Linked DNA regions of Homo sapiens: region 1 is linked to region 2. The links come from fine-mapping of genetic effects on gene expression. Tissue or cell type: tibial artery. Region 2 holds a variant in brackets; the other region holds the start of a gene. All regions are shown on one strand. Distances are between the middles of the regions.

Evidence for each region. PIP is the estimated chance that this variant, and not a neighbour inherited with it, causes the effect.
Region 1: ZCCHC14 starts here. The variant in region 2 is fine-mapped to the expression of ZCCHC14 in tibial artery (GTEx, PIP above 0.99).

The regions. Positions count from the first base shown.
Region 1 is chr16:87,489,795-87,497,886 of GRCh38, forward strand. ZCCHC14 (zinc finger CCHC-type containing 14) reads right to left here and starts at 3,230. Exons shown (of 13, transcript NM_015144.3): 1 at 1,875-3,230. The coding sequence starts at 2,444. It overlaps ZCCHC14-DT (ZCCHC14 divergent transcript), which reads left to right and starts at 4,393. Exons shown (of 4, transcript NR_110943.1): 1 at 4,393-4,441. RefSeq lists a silencer at 3,169-3,348.
Region 2 is chr16:87,538,227-87,546,326 of GRCh38, forward strand. It overlaps LOC124903748 (a long non-coding RNA gene), which reads left to right and starts at 676. Exons shown (of 2, transcript XR_007065170.1): 1 at 676-1,125; 2 at 3,037-3,647. RefSeq lists a silencer at 1,763-1,994 and enhancers at 3,602-4,102, 4,103-4,603. The variant G/A (reference allele first, on the strand shown) is at 3,500.

The sequences.
Region 1 (8,092 bases), 48 kb before region 2:
TTAGCTCACTGCCCAATCAAAATAATAATCACCACTGTCTGCATAAAGTGAGGCACCCGTGCTCACACATTAAGAATCCCCTTAAAGAGATGACGTTACTGTAGCAACAGCCATAGAAATTATTAGTGGGTGGAATCTACACAAAGGAGTAACAGCACATGAAACTGACCATAAATGACTGAGATTCCATGAATAGGTGACAATTTGCTGGCATGTCAAGGCTTACATGGATTACTATAAACAACTACATTTCCTAGGACCCTCTGCACAGCACACAGCCTGAAATACAGGGTGGGAGCCGAACTTAAAAAGAAAACTATAGTCTTGGAGGTAAATGTCACACACACAAAAATCAATTTAAAAAAACCGATGTATGTACTACAACCACTTCTTACAGGAAGACATTAAAAAAGAAAAGCCACAATCTACGATTGAAAGACAGCTTTAAAAACACACACATAAAAAACCTAGCAAACCAGACGGTGTTCTCAGCCACTCATAAAAGCAAAGTCTTATCAAAGTTTTAACTTCAAAGAGCTTAAAGACACTGCAAAGAGACACTGAGCAAGACTTGGTCCCGACTGCAACCTATTCCCTTCCAAAAAATAATCAGTTTGTAATCTAAATACACATCACACCAGGTCAAAGTAATCTCTTCCGGCAGCAAAATTTTGGCACTGGATTGCAGGGGGCTGTTCAAAATAGCTGGAGCCCCAGACACTTTGCGTTTTCAGTTCTGAAACACTTAGACAAAAGTTCACATCGCTAAGTGGATGGCCAGGACGCCCTTCCGGTTCAATTTGGAGACCGGAGATCTTTAACCTAACCTAACATTCCTTAAGGCATCGGTGCCCTCCCACTCAAAGTCAGCCTGGGTTTTGTTTCTAAGGGTCGCCAATAAATAGGTTTCACGGGCATTTAAGGCTCTGGGAGTCTTTTTCTGTCTGTTACAGGTAGCCCGGCTCTTAAAAACGATCACACACAACGTTCACAAGCATGTGCACATTCATACACACGTGTGCACATATACATGCCCACATGCGACACACGCGTACATCATACAGCATGCACGTGTCCATAAATGAGCTCACACGGACAGCCATGTCCCGCGCCCAGGCCCCCAGCGACACAGGCCCCAAGCAGGGCCTCCACCTGTGTGGAGGGAGCGGCTCAGACGGGGAAGCCCCAGCGCCTTGCAATGTTCACCTCACCGGCGGCTTCTGGCGTGGCCACGGCTCCTTCCTTTTCTGGTAATAAATACCAGATTTGGGGAAACCAAGGCGCCGCAATGTGTGTTATCTGTCACCCAAGGGCCCCATTAAGGGGACAAAGGCCTTATCGCGTTTGCAGCCGGCTAAGTGAAAGGAGGGCACCTGGGACTGTGAGCTCTGACCGCGGACGTCTCCCGCACCGCTCCCGCGGATCCTCGGACCCAGGGCCCCTGCAGCCGCTCCTGCCCAAGGGGCGCGAGGCGGAGGTGTGGAGGCTTTGGGGCACGCAGAGGGGACTGAGGGTGTGGGCTCAGGGCCGCGGTGCGGTCTTGGGGCTTAAAGTGCAGACTTAGGGTGAGGAGTGCGGGCTTAGGATGGGGGCTTGGGATGTACGGCGGAGGCTTGGGATGTACGGCGGAGGCTTGGGATGTACGGTGGAGGCTTGGAGAGGTGGGGCACACATTTGGGGTGCGACATAGAGGCTTAGGATGGGGCTTGGGATACGGGCTGGGGGCTCGTGGTGCAGGTTGGAGACCTGGGTGGGAGCTCTCAGTGCAGGCTGGAGGCGTGGGTCGGGGGGTCGCGGTGCAGGCTGGAGGCTTGGAGTGCAGAGTTGGGGATGCAGACTTGGGGTACAGGGCAGAGCTCGGGGCGGGCACGCACCTTGTGGCAGGCTGGGCAAGTGGGCAGCGCGCCGCCCGGCCCGGGCGCGCCCTTGCCGCCGTGGCCCCCGCCGCCGTTCAGGCTGCTCTGGATCTGCGTGAGCTCCTGGCGCAGCACCTGCTTCTGGTGGAAGCTGAAGGCCGGGTGGTTGGAGGCCATGGTGAACAGCAGCAGGAACTCATCGCCCGTGCGGCCCTCGTTAAGCTGCAGCCCGTAGTTGTGGATGATGGAGTCGATGTGCGTGAGCGTGCGGTAGAGCACGCCCGCCGCCTCGCGCTGCTCCGAGCCCAGCAGCGCCAGCGACACCAGCAGCTTGCTGCGCACCACCTCGTCCGTCAGGTTGGTGAGGCTGCCCAGGTCGGCCGGGTTGTTGGCCTTGATCTCCGAGTCGCGCAGCGAGTGGTAGTCCTTGCGGGCCAGGTCCTCCAGGCACGAGCCGAGGAAGCGAAGCTCGAGCGGGATGCACAGGTCCAGCAGGCCGCACAGGAACTCCACGCGCTGCGGCGACGGCAGCTCCGAGAACCAGCGGTACACGCCGTCCCTCTGCAGCGGGCAGCGCTTCTCCACCATGCTGCCGCCCGCGCCGCGCCGCGACCCGGGGCCGGGGACCGCGCGGGGGCGGCCGGGGGGCGCCGGGGGCCGCGGCCGGGGCGCGCCGGGACCGGGGACGCGCGGGCCGGGGCCGGGTCCGGGCGAGGGCGCGCGGGCGCCGCGGGCCGGGCGGGCGCCGGGGCGGGGGCGGGGACCGGGGCCGGGCAAGGCTCCCGTCAGGGGCCGGCGGGCGGGCGCGCGCGGGGCGCCGGGGGGGCCCGGGGCGGCCGGGGCGGCCGGGGGCGGCGAGCGGCCTCGGGCCCCCCGCTCACGGGGAGGCGCCTTCCCCGCGCCCGTGCCCAGCGGCGGCCGGTGCGCGGCGGCGGCGGCGGCTGCTCCTCGTCGTCGTCGTCGTCGTCGCCCGGGAGGCGGCCGCCCCCATCTCCCCCCGCGCCGCAGGGTCTGTCACTGCGGGCCGCCCCCCGACGGAGCCGCCCCGGCCATGCCGTCGCCGCCGCCCGCGCCTCCGCCCAGGCCGGCCGTTACCCCGGGCCGCGGGCGCGGCGTCGCCGCCTGGGGAGCGCTGGGGGCCGCGGCCGCGAAACGGACGCTGGAGGGGGAGGGACGCGCGGCGGGAGGCGCGGAGGGATCCGGCCGGGACTTGCCGGCCTTGCTGCTCCCGCGCGGCGGACGGATCCGGGCCCGAGCGCGGCGGCGGCGGCGACGGCGACGGCGACGGCGACGGCGACGGCGGAGGAGGCGCCGGCCGAGGAGCGGAGGGATCGTCGCGCTCGCGGCTGACGGGCGGCCGGGATCAGCAGAAGTGGGCGGGGTGGCCGCCTCTCGCGACAGCCCGGGCCTGCCGGGCCCGTCCCCCCCCCACTGATTGGCTCAGGCGGCCCGTTCTCGGCCCGTGATTGTGCCGGGTCCCCAATCCCATTCGCCCGTTCCGCGGCCACGCCTCCCTGGGGGCTGTCGATCATGTTGGGGCCACCGCCTCCCGTCCCTCGGCGGCCGTCAAGACGCGATTGGTCCGCGGAATCGGAGAGGCGGAAAACCCGGGCTGGATTTCTGGTTGCTTTTGTTCCCGCAAATTTGCGTGGAGCATTGTTTTTCGGCGAAAACGGGGCGTTCGGCCTTCCTGCTTTATTTTTGAGCGGTGTAAGAGGGAGGTAGTGGGTATCTTCGAGAAACGGCCGCCGCGGGGTCCGGAGCCCCGGGTTCCAATCCCGGGTCGGCCACTGCAAAGCTGTGTGACCTTGGGCGAGTCACTTGGCCTCTCTGAGCCCCAGGCGCCTCCCCGGGAAAAAGAGGGTAATAATAACCGCCCCCGAGGTTTGTGCGAAGGTGTTGAGCTCACAGAGGGCCGGCACCGGCACTTTTGAGGCGGCTGACTTGCCCTGGGGGTGTGATGGGAGGTGCAAGCTTTCTCCAAAAGCCTCGTCCAAATGGAGCCTTTAAATCCGCCTTCTTTCCGCGGCTACTTCACCAGCTCGCCAAACGCAGAAAATGCAAACACAGGGGAGGGGGCAAGGGAGCTGACCTGGCTGGAAGTAAACAGAAACGCCACCCTCCCCTGGCACTTGCATTGGCACCGGATTGCAGGTGGGGGAAGGGCCGGTGCACCCAACCACCTTTAAATCCCACCACTTACACACAGGCATAGAAGTAGAGCCGCGGGGGCTGGACGCTCATTCCTCCCCTGCCCTTCCCCTAGAGCGCTGCTTTGAATGTCTGTTGATCTAGAACGGGGTCTGTTCATTCATGGGTTCCAGGTCCCAAGCGCCCGGGGGCAGCTGAGAGCAAAGCTGGCGCCCTCCCTACCCTGTGGAGCTTACACTCTGGTTCTGGGCAGTGCACACTAGAGATTGGTTAAATCAATGAATGAACTTTTTCAGGATATGGTCCAAGGTGCTGAAAACTTCCTAACAAAACTCTTCAGCCGAATCTGGCACGCCTGTGGTTCCAGCTACTGGGTAGACCGAGGCAGGAGGATCGCTTGAGGCCAAGAGTTTAAGACCAACCTGGGCAACATGGTGAGACCCCCCCTCCCCGCCCCAGTCGCTCCAAAACAAACAAACCCCACATTCTCCAGTCTTAGGTCTTCGAGGATGAACAGAGATTGCAGAAAGGCATGGTTGGGAACAAAAAAAATTGCTCTCCACTCCCCCAGCCCCCTCCACACCTTGGGCACATTTCCCTGGAGCTGCCCCAGTGTTCTTTGTCAGTGTAGGAAGAAGCAAAAATCTAAATGGAGTCAGGATGGCCTCCCACATGGGCACAAGGGCAAGGCTGGGGACAGTTGGGTCTCCTCATCTTATTTCCCAGGTCTAGGCTGATTTCTATTAATAATTAAATTAATCGTCGTTGTCCTGGACCTCACTTCTTAATGTGATTCCAGGGAACTGGCCACATTCCAAAATTCATAATCTAAGGTAGTGAAAGAACGTGAACATCAAGACAGTTTGGCTGGGCTCAGAGGCTCACATCTGTAATCCCAGTACTTTGGGAGGCCGAGGGTAGATCCCTTGAGCCCAGGAGTTCGAGACCAGCCTGGGCAACATGGCGAAATCCCATCTCTACAAAAACTACAAAAATTAGCCAGATGTGGTGGCATGTGCCTGTAGTCCCAGGTACTTGGGAGACTGCAGTGGAAGGATTGCCCGAGCCCGGGAAAGGGAGGTTGCGGTGAATGGGGATCCCGCCACTGCACTCCAGCCTGGGTGACAGCGTAAGACTCTGTCTCAAAAACAAAACAAAACAAAAGATTCATTTCTTATTGATAAAGCAAGCTCCTTGGAGAAAGATCTTGGAACCTCATTAGTGCTGGGGGTGGGGGTGGGGCTTCTTCAATCCAGCCGAGCTGGCTGTGAAACCCCCAGGCTTTGGTACCAAGTGAGCTCCAGTCCCAGCTGTGGCTGACTGTGTGAACTTGGCTATGCATTCAGAGGCCTCTGAGCCTCAGTTTCCTCATCTGTAGAAGACAGCCAGGAACCCGTCATCCTGGCTAGCAGTGGAAGTCAAAGGTGCTCATGGAAAGCCCTTGCTGGCTGGAACAAGGGAGGCCTGAGCTGTGGAAGTCCTTGGATCAAGGTCCTCCCCACTTCCCGCTGCCTTTTTGGTCCTTCTTGCGTGCTCTTTGTGATTTAATGGCTTAGTAGGTTGAATCATGTCCCCCCAAAGTTTATCTCTACCCCAAATCTCAGAATGTGACCTTATTTGGGAAAAGAGTCTTTGCAGATATAATTAAGGTAAGAGTCAAGATAAAATCACACTGAATTAAGGTGAGCCCTACATGCAATGAGACTGTCCTTACAAGATACAGAAAAGAACACATAGAGACTTCGGGGGAAAGGAGACTATGTGCAAGAATGGCAGAGATTGGAGCCAAGGAGTGCCTGGGCCTACCAGAGGCTGCAAGAGACAGGGAGGACCCTCCCCTAGAGCCTCCAGAGGGAACAGAGCCATGCCCACACCTTGACTTTGGACTCCTGGCCTCCAGAACTGTGAGAGGGTAAGTTGCTATTGTTTTCAACCCCCAACCCCCACCCTCCCCCACCCCCCGACCCTCTCCCACCCCCATCTCCCACCCCTCCCCCATCCCCATCTCCCACCCCCCCCCCACCCCTCCCCTACCCCCATCTCCCCACCCCTCCCTCACTCACGCGTGTTGTGGTTACTTGTAGGGCAGCCAGGGAAACCGAAACAATGTCATATCCCCCCAGACATCGGTGTGGCTCAGCTCAATCCAGTTCACAACAAATATGAAATCCCTGCCCTACAGGACCAGGCCTCAGGAAGGGCTTGGGGGCCTCAGAGGCAAATGAGACCAGGTCCATCGACCCTACAGAACTGACAACCTGGACTCCCCACTCTGAAGCAGGCAGGCTGCCTGAAGGAGGGGGCCTCCCTCATAAGGAGAGGGCAGACGCTGACCTCCCGGGCCCTCCAGCATTCTCTGGGTCCTGGCCCCGAGATTCTGGTTTTCCACACAGGGCACCTACTGTCTCCCGCTTCCCTGACTCTGCCCGTGCACAAGGTAACCCCAGCTGCAAGCGTGCCAGGAGCTTTTCTCCACCTCTGCCTCGACATCTGCCGCCTCTCCTCCTCTGGAGAGGGAGGCAGCTGAAGGACAGCAGCCCCACGCCTTGCTGGAGCGGCTGAGATCGCTGGGAGGAGGTTGGGAGAGGACTCAGGGGCTCAGGCTAGATCAGGAGGGTGGGCCCTGCCTCCTTGTGAGGGGGCCCAGCACCAGGGGGAGCCCACAGTCTAGGGTGCTGTTCAGCCAAATTGGCTACCACTGGGTGTGAGGTCTGTGGTTGTGCAGGGTTGAAGGGCTGGGTGTCATTTGCCTCTGAGGCCCCCAAGCCCTTCCTGAGGCCTGGTCCTATAGGGCAAGGATAGACTATTTATTGTAAACTGGGTTGCGCTGAGAGCCACACTCATGTTTAGGGGGAAATGCCATTTTATTGGTTTCCTGTGACTGCCCTACAAATAACCACAAAGAGGCGAGGGGAGAAGTGGGGGCTGTCCCTTCCACAGAGCTGCAATCAAGCACAAATGACTCTAATAGTATCAATTGTGAGAGAGAGAGAGAGATTTGGAGTTCACCACAAATTCCCCAAACAAACAATTTTACAAGAAGGACATGACCCGCCTGGCGTTACTGCTTAGTTCTGAATGAGTGATACCGACTGCAGCAGGTGACCAGGCCAAGCCCAGAAATGGGCCACAGGGACCCCAAGCACATGCTCTTCCCCCAGACTGCCACCATCTTGCTTTTCCTTCAGACCTAGGACCCCACGAGAGGAGGGATCTGGAGGCCAAGCCAGGAGCAGGACAACACCAACAGAGGCCTCAGAAGAAGACTCAGAGTGGGACAGGGGCTCCTTAAGTGATTGGGGCTGGAAGTGCGCAGAGAAGCCCGGCGCGGCAGGGAATTGTCTCTCCCTGGGGTGCTGCCAAGGTGTGTGTGGTCTCTAGCTGCAACGTGCGCTTCCTTCCCTTGGCCTGACTCCTGCTTTCCTGTCATTGAGAAGGTTTGGGACCTGACACCCTGAGCATGGAGGCCATAAATCCAGTGGATCCCTAAATTTCCTGATGGGGTCCTGGCTCCAGGCCTCGGTGCCTGACAGCCTCGTGTAATTGACAAAACCCCATGGAGCTGTTTCTGATACTGAATTCCCATCACGCAGATACTGAATGGTCAAGGGCTTCAGCCCGGGCCACACAGTTAGTTCATGTTGGAATTGGATTCTGCCCTAAGTCAATTGCCCATAGACTCTGCCCCTCCCAGGAGGAAACCACAAATGTGACATATTGTTTATTTGCTATTTTTGCAAAGGTGTCTGTTGCTTGCCAGCTTTTCCAGCCATGACTGCAGACAAAGTCCACCTAGAGTCATAAATGGGCAATCAGCCCCGAACAACGTCCAGACCCGGTTTCTGCACGGCGAGGCGTTTTTGTCCATGGCAGACTTGCTTACCCGGGTGTCTTTGGTGTGGGGCTAGATGCAGCATTTCCCCAGTGGGAATGGCCCGGGGTCTTATTTAAAGTGGAGGGTCCTAGGCCTGGCCCCACGTATGGAGTCAGGGTCCCTAGGGGTAGGACCTTGGAATCCGCATTTTTTTTTTTTTGAGACAGGGTCTCCCTCTGTCACCCAGGCTGGAATGCAGTGGCGCGATCTC
Region 2 (8,100 bases):
GTCAAAGAAACTGTTTTCATCAACTGTGGGAAAAACCCTGAGACTCACTTATAACCGCTGACCTCAAACACCCCCAAGTCTAAATTGTTTCCATCTCCCTGAATCCAAAACTCCAGCTGACGAGCACTGAGTGTTTATGTGAACATGGCCACATCCAAATGACCAGGCAGCCCTATAGCTCCTCACAGTCAAGTTCCTGTACGGTTTCCTCAAGATGCAAAAACATTTTGAAGTATGAGATTCGAGCTTCATACCCTGCCCAAGCCTTCTGTTTAAAGGTGGAATGCATTCCCTGCTTTTTTTCTTTTTAAATCTGCCCCCTTCTTGGTTTCTAATGACATTTGACATTTGACGTTCACCACTGCTGTGAGTTCTCCTCCGCCACTGTCAACACAGCCATGCCCAGCTACTAACGCAGAGACAGCAATGCTCCAGGCCAGAGCATATGTTGGAGACCTACATTCATTTCATAAATGTGAGCAACACAGTTTCCCATTCCTTTTGACTCATTTTTTCCTTCCTTTTCTCCACTTGCCAGTTGGGGTGGACTCCAGCGTGGCTGAGGGCAGACGCCGCCGCCCCTGAGAGCTGCTTCTGGTTCACGTGGCTTCTTAGAGAACCACAACTCCAGCCCTCCTCTCTGTAGGGGACACAAATTCACCGCTTGCCCTTTGTCCCCAGAAGATGTTTTCTAACAGCCCAAGGGCCGATCCGGAATCAGAGAAAAACACTCCGTGGGGGAGGCCAGAGGAATATTTAGTTTGTGTTTTATTAGCCCTTGCTGGGTCTCCAGATCTGAACCCCGGCGGGGCCTGTGTGCTCAGATCTTCCCACAGCGTACCCCTGAAGCCCAGCTCAGGCAGCCTGAGGATTAGAATAAATGAAAATCATTATCTGAGCTGTTTGGCACACGTGCGTGTGCAAGAGCCAGGGGCCATTTTCAAGGGAAAATGCCCGTTGCAGTTTCCTAAATCCTTTCTCATTTTTGACTTATTTGATCCTGGCAACAACTTGGTGAGATTGGTTTATCCGTGAGTCCATTTCACAGGCAGGAAAGTGGTGTCGCAGGGAGGCCGAGTGACTTGTCCACAGCCACGCAGCTGGGAAACGGGGAGACAGATTCAGGTGAGGACCTGCTGCCTCCGCGGTGCGGGGTACACCTTTCTCTCTCTTCCTCCTGCCTCCTTTCCTCTTCCTTCCTTCTTCTCCAAACTTCCACTCACCTATTTTTAAAACTCTTTTTGGAGATGGGGTCTGGCTATGTTGCCCAGGCTAGACCCAAGCCCCTGGGCTCAAGCAGTCCTCCCACCTCAGCTTCTTGAGTAGCTAGGATGACAGGTGCATGCTACCACACCTTGCTCAACTATTTTTAATTGAAAAATTAACATACACAAATGGTTAAACAACCACAACCAAACAGTACAGGAAAGGATGTCCTGAAAAGTAAGCTTCCTTCCACCCCAAATCTTCAGGGTCCCAGAGCCCCTTTTTCTAGCTATGTGTGTGCATATGTGCTCGTGCACACATATGTGTATGCACACTTAGGTGTGCATGTGTGATACATTACTCGGCCTCCTACACAGACAGTAGCAGCCCATGCGCTGGGTGCCTCTGGTTCTTCTTATTTCTCTCTCTGTCTCTTTTTTTTTTTTTTGTTTTTGAGACAGAGTCTTGTTCTGCCTTCCAGGCTGGAGTGCAGTGGCACAAGCTCGGCTCACTGCAAACCTCCACCTCCCGGGTTCAAGCAATTCTCGTGTCTCAGCCACCCAAGTAGCTGGGATTACAGGTGCCCATCACCACACCCAGCTAATTTTTGTATTTTTAGTAGAGACAGGGTTTTGTCACGTTGGCTGGGCTTGTCTCTAACTCCTGACCTCAGGTGATCTGCCCGCCTCAGCCTCCCAAAGTGCTGGAATTACAGGCGTGAGCTGCCACTTCCAGCCCTTCTTATTTCTCTTGAAAGCTGTTCTGTGTCCACATGGATGGAGCCACCACGCTTTTTGCTGACTGCACAAGAGCTCTCAGTGCATGGGGAGTAGGCTGTCCTTCTCCACTCCTCTCCACCAACAGGCATGAGGCTGCTCTCAGTCTCTGCTGTAATCAACGCATGGCGTGGGTCATGCCTTTGGCACATATATGCCTTTGTGCCCCTATGCCAGTGCCTCACTCAGGAAGAATCCTCGGAGGAGAACTGCTGCGCAAGAGGATTTGCCGTTGTCAGTGCCGGGGCTGTGGTTAAATTGCCTCCCCGTAGGCTGCACTTGCTCACACGCCTGCCCTCCCGGTGTCAGGGTCATGCCCCTCACTCCTAACGCCATGCAGCACGTAGCCATTCAGGGGCCCTTTGGGGGCCCCTCCCAGCGAGCTCACTCTAATCAGAGACAGCAAAGGTGTTGGATCTGCTTGATTTTCAAATGATTTACCCAGAAGCATCCACCCTCTCAGCCCCTAGTGTGGGGAATATGAGCCCTTCCCTGGAAACACTGCTAGAAAAAGAAAAAAAAAAAAAGGAAGAGAGAGAGAGGGCTCATTGAATAGGGCATCCCTAAAACGTGGACAGAGGAAGCAGAGAGAATGGAGTCCAAACACTCAGATCCTGTTGTCACCCCACCAGGGTCTACCCAGCAACGCCGAGACACTGAACAGGGCCCTCGTGAGTGCCTAGAAACGGTGGTGATCAACTCCCACCCCTGAGCCTCCCTCAGTCCCCAGATCAGCAGCAGGGATTTTTTTACAGCCCTCTACCCAGCCACCCTGGGTCCTGTGCAGCCAACCTGGGTCCACACATGTCCGGGACTCACAGATGAGATGGAACTGTCCCACGCATGGTCTCTGGGGCAGAAACTGCTGCGGAGCCTGCCGAGGCCACTCCTGCCGACTGGCCAGGGCACAGCATCTGACCCAGGAGGCTGTGACCTCGCTGCCCCAGGCCTGGCATGGCCTGTGGACAGTGGCCCGTCCCGCCGGCCACCAGGAACCTCCCCTCGGTGCCCACCCCATCCACCTCGCCAAGACTAATCTAGAAATTATTTATAGATCCGAACTCCACAGAAACCATTGTGTCTGCCGTTGCCATGGCAATGGGGATGTGGCAGGAGCGCCAGGCTCTCAGGCTTTCCAGGGCCCGTGGAGGCCGGCAAGGGCGGTCGATTTCTCCCAGGAGCCCCTGACTCACGCCCACCTTCAGAGGCCCCCGGGAGTGAAGAAGACAGCCTTCCCACCCGTTTCCAGCAGGGCTGGCTGCATCCAGGAAGACAGCGCTGCTGGTGAGTGGTTCGGCTTTGTTTCAGACCACTCAAAGAAATCATCTAGAACAACGTCCGCAAGACTGGCGGTGCAACTGTCCCCCTTGGAACCTCTCGGGAACACAGCCTCTGTCTCCTCACCGCAGAGCAGCTGCGTCAGACTCCCAGACGGCGGGGCCTAGGGATCTGTGTTTTGGTTTTGGGATCTGTGCAAATCCACATGACTCAATAATCCAAACATACAGAGAGCCTGG[G/A]AACCCTTACCCCGCTCTGGCGCCCTATGTGTCCGCTTTCATTGGCTTCTTGTATTTCCGGCTTGTTTTCTTTAGGGAGGCAGCAAATACAAGATACGGTCCACTTTTATCTTTCCCCGCTCAGAAAATAAAGATACCACAGCCCAGGCTTCCGCACCTTGCTTTTCTCACTAAATACTATTTTCCAAAGCTGTCACCAAATTCGCCGCTTCTTTATTTTTTTTTCTTTTACGGCGGCACAGCATGGGTTCCCTCCTGTGGGTCGGTGTGCCAAGGAATCTGCTTGCGTAACCAGACCTTTTCCCTAGGAGCAGTTGCCCAGACGCAGCCCCTAGGATGAGGATGTGTTTGCAGCGACTATTCAGGGAGTACTCCCTGGGGACACAGGTTGGGGGTGGGAAGCTGGACTGGAAAAGGAAGGAAGCTGGGCAGGGTGCTATGTGGGCACAGTCCTTCTGCAGCCTGAAGGAACTGGGGTGGGCGGGGCATGCCCGACCCCACAGGGGAACTGTGGAGGGTCAATCACACCCAGGGATGTCCCAGCCTGAGACCAGGGAGCTGAGGTCTTCATACACCCACCCAGAACCCACCTGTCTTTGGTTAAGCGTGGTCTAGGGAGGTATAAATTCCCAGGCATTTCCGTGCATGAGGGTGAAGCGGCTTCAGAGAGCCCACAGGCCACCCTCTAAACCAGAGGTCTCCAACCCCCGGGCCACGGCAGAAGGTGAGCAGCAGGTGAGTGAGCAAAGCTTCACCTGTATTTACAGCTGCTGCCCACGGCTCACGTTAACACCTGAGATCCGCCTCCTGTCAGATCAGCCGCAGCATTAGATTCTCATAGAAGCGTGGACCGTATCGTGAGCTGCATATGCAAGGGATCTAGGTTGCACACTCCTTATGAGATTCTAATACACGATGATCTGTCACACGGCAGTGACCAGCACGGACACGCATCCCTTCCCGTATGAAGCTTACACTCCAGACCAGAGTTGCCCAATAAAGCTTCCTGCACTGATGGAATGTTCTAGATCTGCATTGTCCGATATGGTGACCACTAGTCCCTTGTGGCTTTTGAGCCTTTGAAATATGGCTGGTACTGGTTCATGGCCTGTTAGGAACTCGGTTGCACAGCAGGAGATGAGTAGCAGGTGAGTGAGTGAAGCTTCCTCTGTATTTACAGCTGCTCCCCATCGCTGGTATTACGGCCTGAGCTCCCCCTCCTGTCAGATCAGCTGCAGCATTAGATTCTCCTAGGAACGCGAACCCTATTGTGAACTGTCATTCGAGGAATCCAGGTTGTGCACTCCTTATGAGAAACTCGTGTCAGATGATCTGTCACTGTCTCCCATCACCCCTAGATGGGATTGTCCAGTTGCAGGAAAGCAAGCTCAGGGCTCCCACTGATTCTACGTTATAGTGAGTTGTATAATTATTTCATTAGATATTACAATGTAATAATAATAGAAATAAAGTGAACGGTAAGTGTAATAAGTTGAATCGTCCTGAAACCATTCACCCTGCCTGGTCCATGGAAAAATTGTCTTCCATGAAACCAGTCCCTGGTGCCAAGAAGTTTGGGAACCACTGCTTTAAGCAGCTGCTGGTGCTGGCTGTTGGAGGTATAAACACTCCAAAGCTTTGGAGAGCACAAAAATGGTAAAAAGGGATCCAGGGATCCGGCAGGGGCCCTGAGGTTATTCAACACACATTTCCAATGGATTCTGTTAAAACTGGTTCAGATAGGGAGCTGCCCTGGCTTAGGGACAATCCATGAGCAAATTATCACCCATTTACTCAGCGCTTCCATGAACCAGGCCCTGGCTAGACCAAGAAGTCCCAGGTGCGTGGACCCCAGCGCGTTTCCTCCAGGGGTGTAGCACTGGGCAGGAGAGGGCCGAGGGCCCCTGCAGCTGGAGGCAGCTGGTGGCCCCTGCGTGCTCGCGGCCCTGCTGCTGCTTCGTCAGAAATGACACGACATACCTCACTGCACCTCCTGACCTTGAGGTGCGCTGAGAAGCACTGCAGAGAGCACTCTGCTCATCAACAAGTTTTATTTCTCTGTTTGTGCATTCAGCACAAAATATGTGTATTGGTGTAATAAACTTTGTAATGTGTTTCCAACGTTTGATCCACGAAGTTTCAGGTCTTTCCCATAAGCAGAGCCCTTGAAGGTGCTGGCACAGATTCCACGATCTGAGGCCTCCTGACGGCCTCTGGAGCCCCCTTCTGCCGCTTCCCACGTAGGGCTGCCGCGTGTGGTCCGAAAATCATCCTAAAAATGGAACCTTCCACTCAGGCAGGCACCGCATGGGTCTGTGTGAGCCGCATGTTTCTCAGCCAAGACGCGGCTGTGTAGGAAGTTCCTTATAAGGATTTCCTACTCTTTGTGGGCCACCCGTTCATGCGGTGACCAACCTCATTTGCGTTCCCAAGTCTGTGCCGAGCTTCCTGTGGGCAGGAAGGGGCCCTCACTGCCTTCTCCCTTGTGGGTCTTCGAGCCCATGAAGTGGGGGCTTGGCCAGGGCATGAGGTGTCTTTCTGCAAATTAGAGAAAGGGACGTGCTAGGGTTTGAATGTTTGTCCTCTCCGAAGCCCATGCTGAAATCGAATCCCTACAGTGGCAGCATTGAGAGGTGAGGCCTTGAGGAAGTGATTGAGTCGAGAGGGCTCTGCCATCATCAGTAGATGAATCCATTGGTGGACTCACAGATGAACGGGTTAACATTGGTGGGCTCACGGATGAACGGGTTAATGGGTTAATGGTTATCCCAGGAGTGGGTCAGTTATCACGGGAGTGGGACTGGTGGCTTCATAAGAAGAAGAAGAAAGACCTGAGTGAGCAGTCAGCCTCCACACTATGGGATGCCCTGTGCCACTTGGGGCCTCCATAACTGTAAGAAATTAATTCCCTTTCTTTATAAATTGCCCAGTTTCAGGTATTGTGTTATCAACAACAGAAAACAGACTAAGGAAGCACTCCCTATCCGAGTGGACTCAGCCTGGAAAGGCACAGTTTTCTGTGTGGAGGGATTTTTATAAGTGCCCCAGGATGGTCGGGACTCCATCCACGCTGAACACCCATGCATCATTAACCTGGGATATTAATGAGAGTATTGGTTTGGGTGCTCTAACAAAGACAATCAGAGTGGCAGAGACTGCCAGAGGTGGAAGGTGATTTCTGTCTTAGTCTCTCACACCAAGGTCGAGCTGGTGTGGCCCGGGCACCTTCTCATTTGTCATTCCACAATTCCCCTTGTGTGTGGTCCTTGTCCACGTGCTGCAGGGCAGGGTCCCAGGATGGTCCTTGTCCACATGCTGCAGGGCAGGGTCCCGGGAAGCAGACCTGCGATGGAGATTTGCATACAGGAAGGACCTGGGCATGCTCTCAGGGAGAGGCAGGACCAACAGAGGGAGGAGGTGGCTGAGATGCTCCTGCCGGGTCTCTGAGGCTGGCACGGGCCATCACAGTTGTCCCAAGTGGGAGTGAGGGGCTTGGCCTCTATAGCCCCCCAGTGTAGGTGTGCCTCTGTGCAAGCCAGCTCTCTTCTGCTAAGGGTAATTCCCAGAGAGAGCTGAGAGTGGGCCGCACTCCAGCCAGCAGGAAGGGGCAGGGGAGGGGGAGACTCCCCAGTCTGTGCAGGGAGAGGCTCAGAAGGTACACACATCACTTTTCATCCTCATCCTCATCATGTGGCCATATCTACCTTCGAGGGAGGCTGTGGGGTGCAGCCATAAGCCTGTTTAGAAGTCAGGGGTGGTCTCACCATGAGATCAATGGGAAGACCATAACACCTGGCACCTAGATGAGACAGGCACAGCCTTGGTGCTCGGCAAATCAGTGCATGAGCAAAGGAGAGATTAGGAGCAGAGTGTCTGCTGTTGGTAGGAAGAACGGGATGTTTTCTCTTGGCTTGGGAGCACACAGAGTGATCCTATGTGTATTAGTTTCCTATGCTGCATTGTGTTACAAATTTAACTACTTAAAACAACACACGGCCAGGTGGGGTGGCTCACACCTATAATCCTAGCACTTTGGGAGGCTGAGGCAGGAGGACGGCTTGAGCCAAGGAGTTTGAAATCACACAACATAGGAAGACCTCTCGTCTCTACAAGAAAAAAATAATTAGCTGGGTGTGGTGGTGCGTGCCTGTGGTCGTGGTCCCAGATATTTGGAAGTCTGAGGTGGGAGGATTGCTTGAGATCAGGAAGTCAAGACTGCAATGACATACGATTGCACCATTGCACTCCAGCCTGGCTGACAGGGCAAGACCCTGTCTCAAAAAACCAAACCAAAACACAAAACACACACATTTATGATCTTGTCATTTCTGTGGGTCAGGCATCCAGGCACAGCTTAGCTGGTCTGTGCTCAGGGTCTCCCAAAGCTGTATTTGAGGTGTTTGCTGAGCTGCGTTCTCATCTGCAGGCCCAACTGGGGCAGAGTCTGCTTTGCGTTCATCCAGGCTGTTGGCAGAATGTATTTCCTGTGGTTGTAGGGCTGAGGGCCTGTTTTCATGACTGACTGTCCCCTGGGAGCTACCTTTGTCCCCTGCTCTGTGGCCCCGTCCGAGGGCATTTCACGACGTGGGTATTTCCTTCCT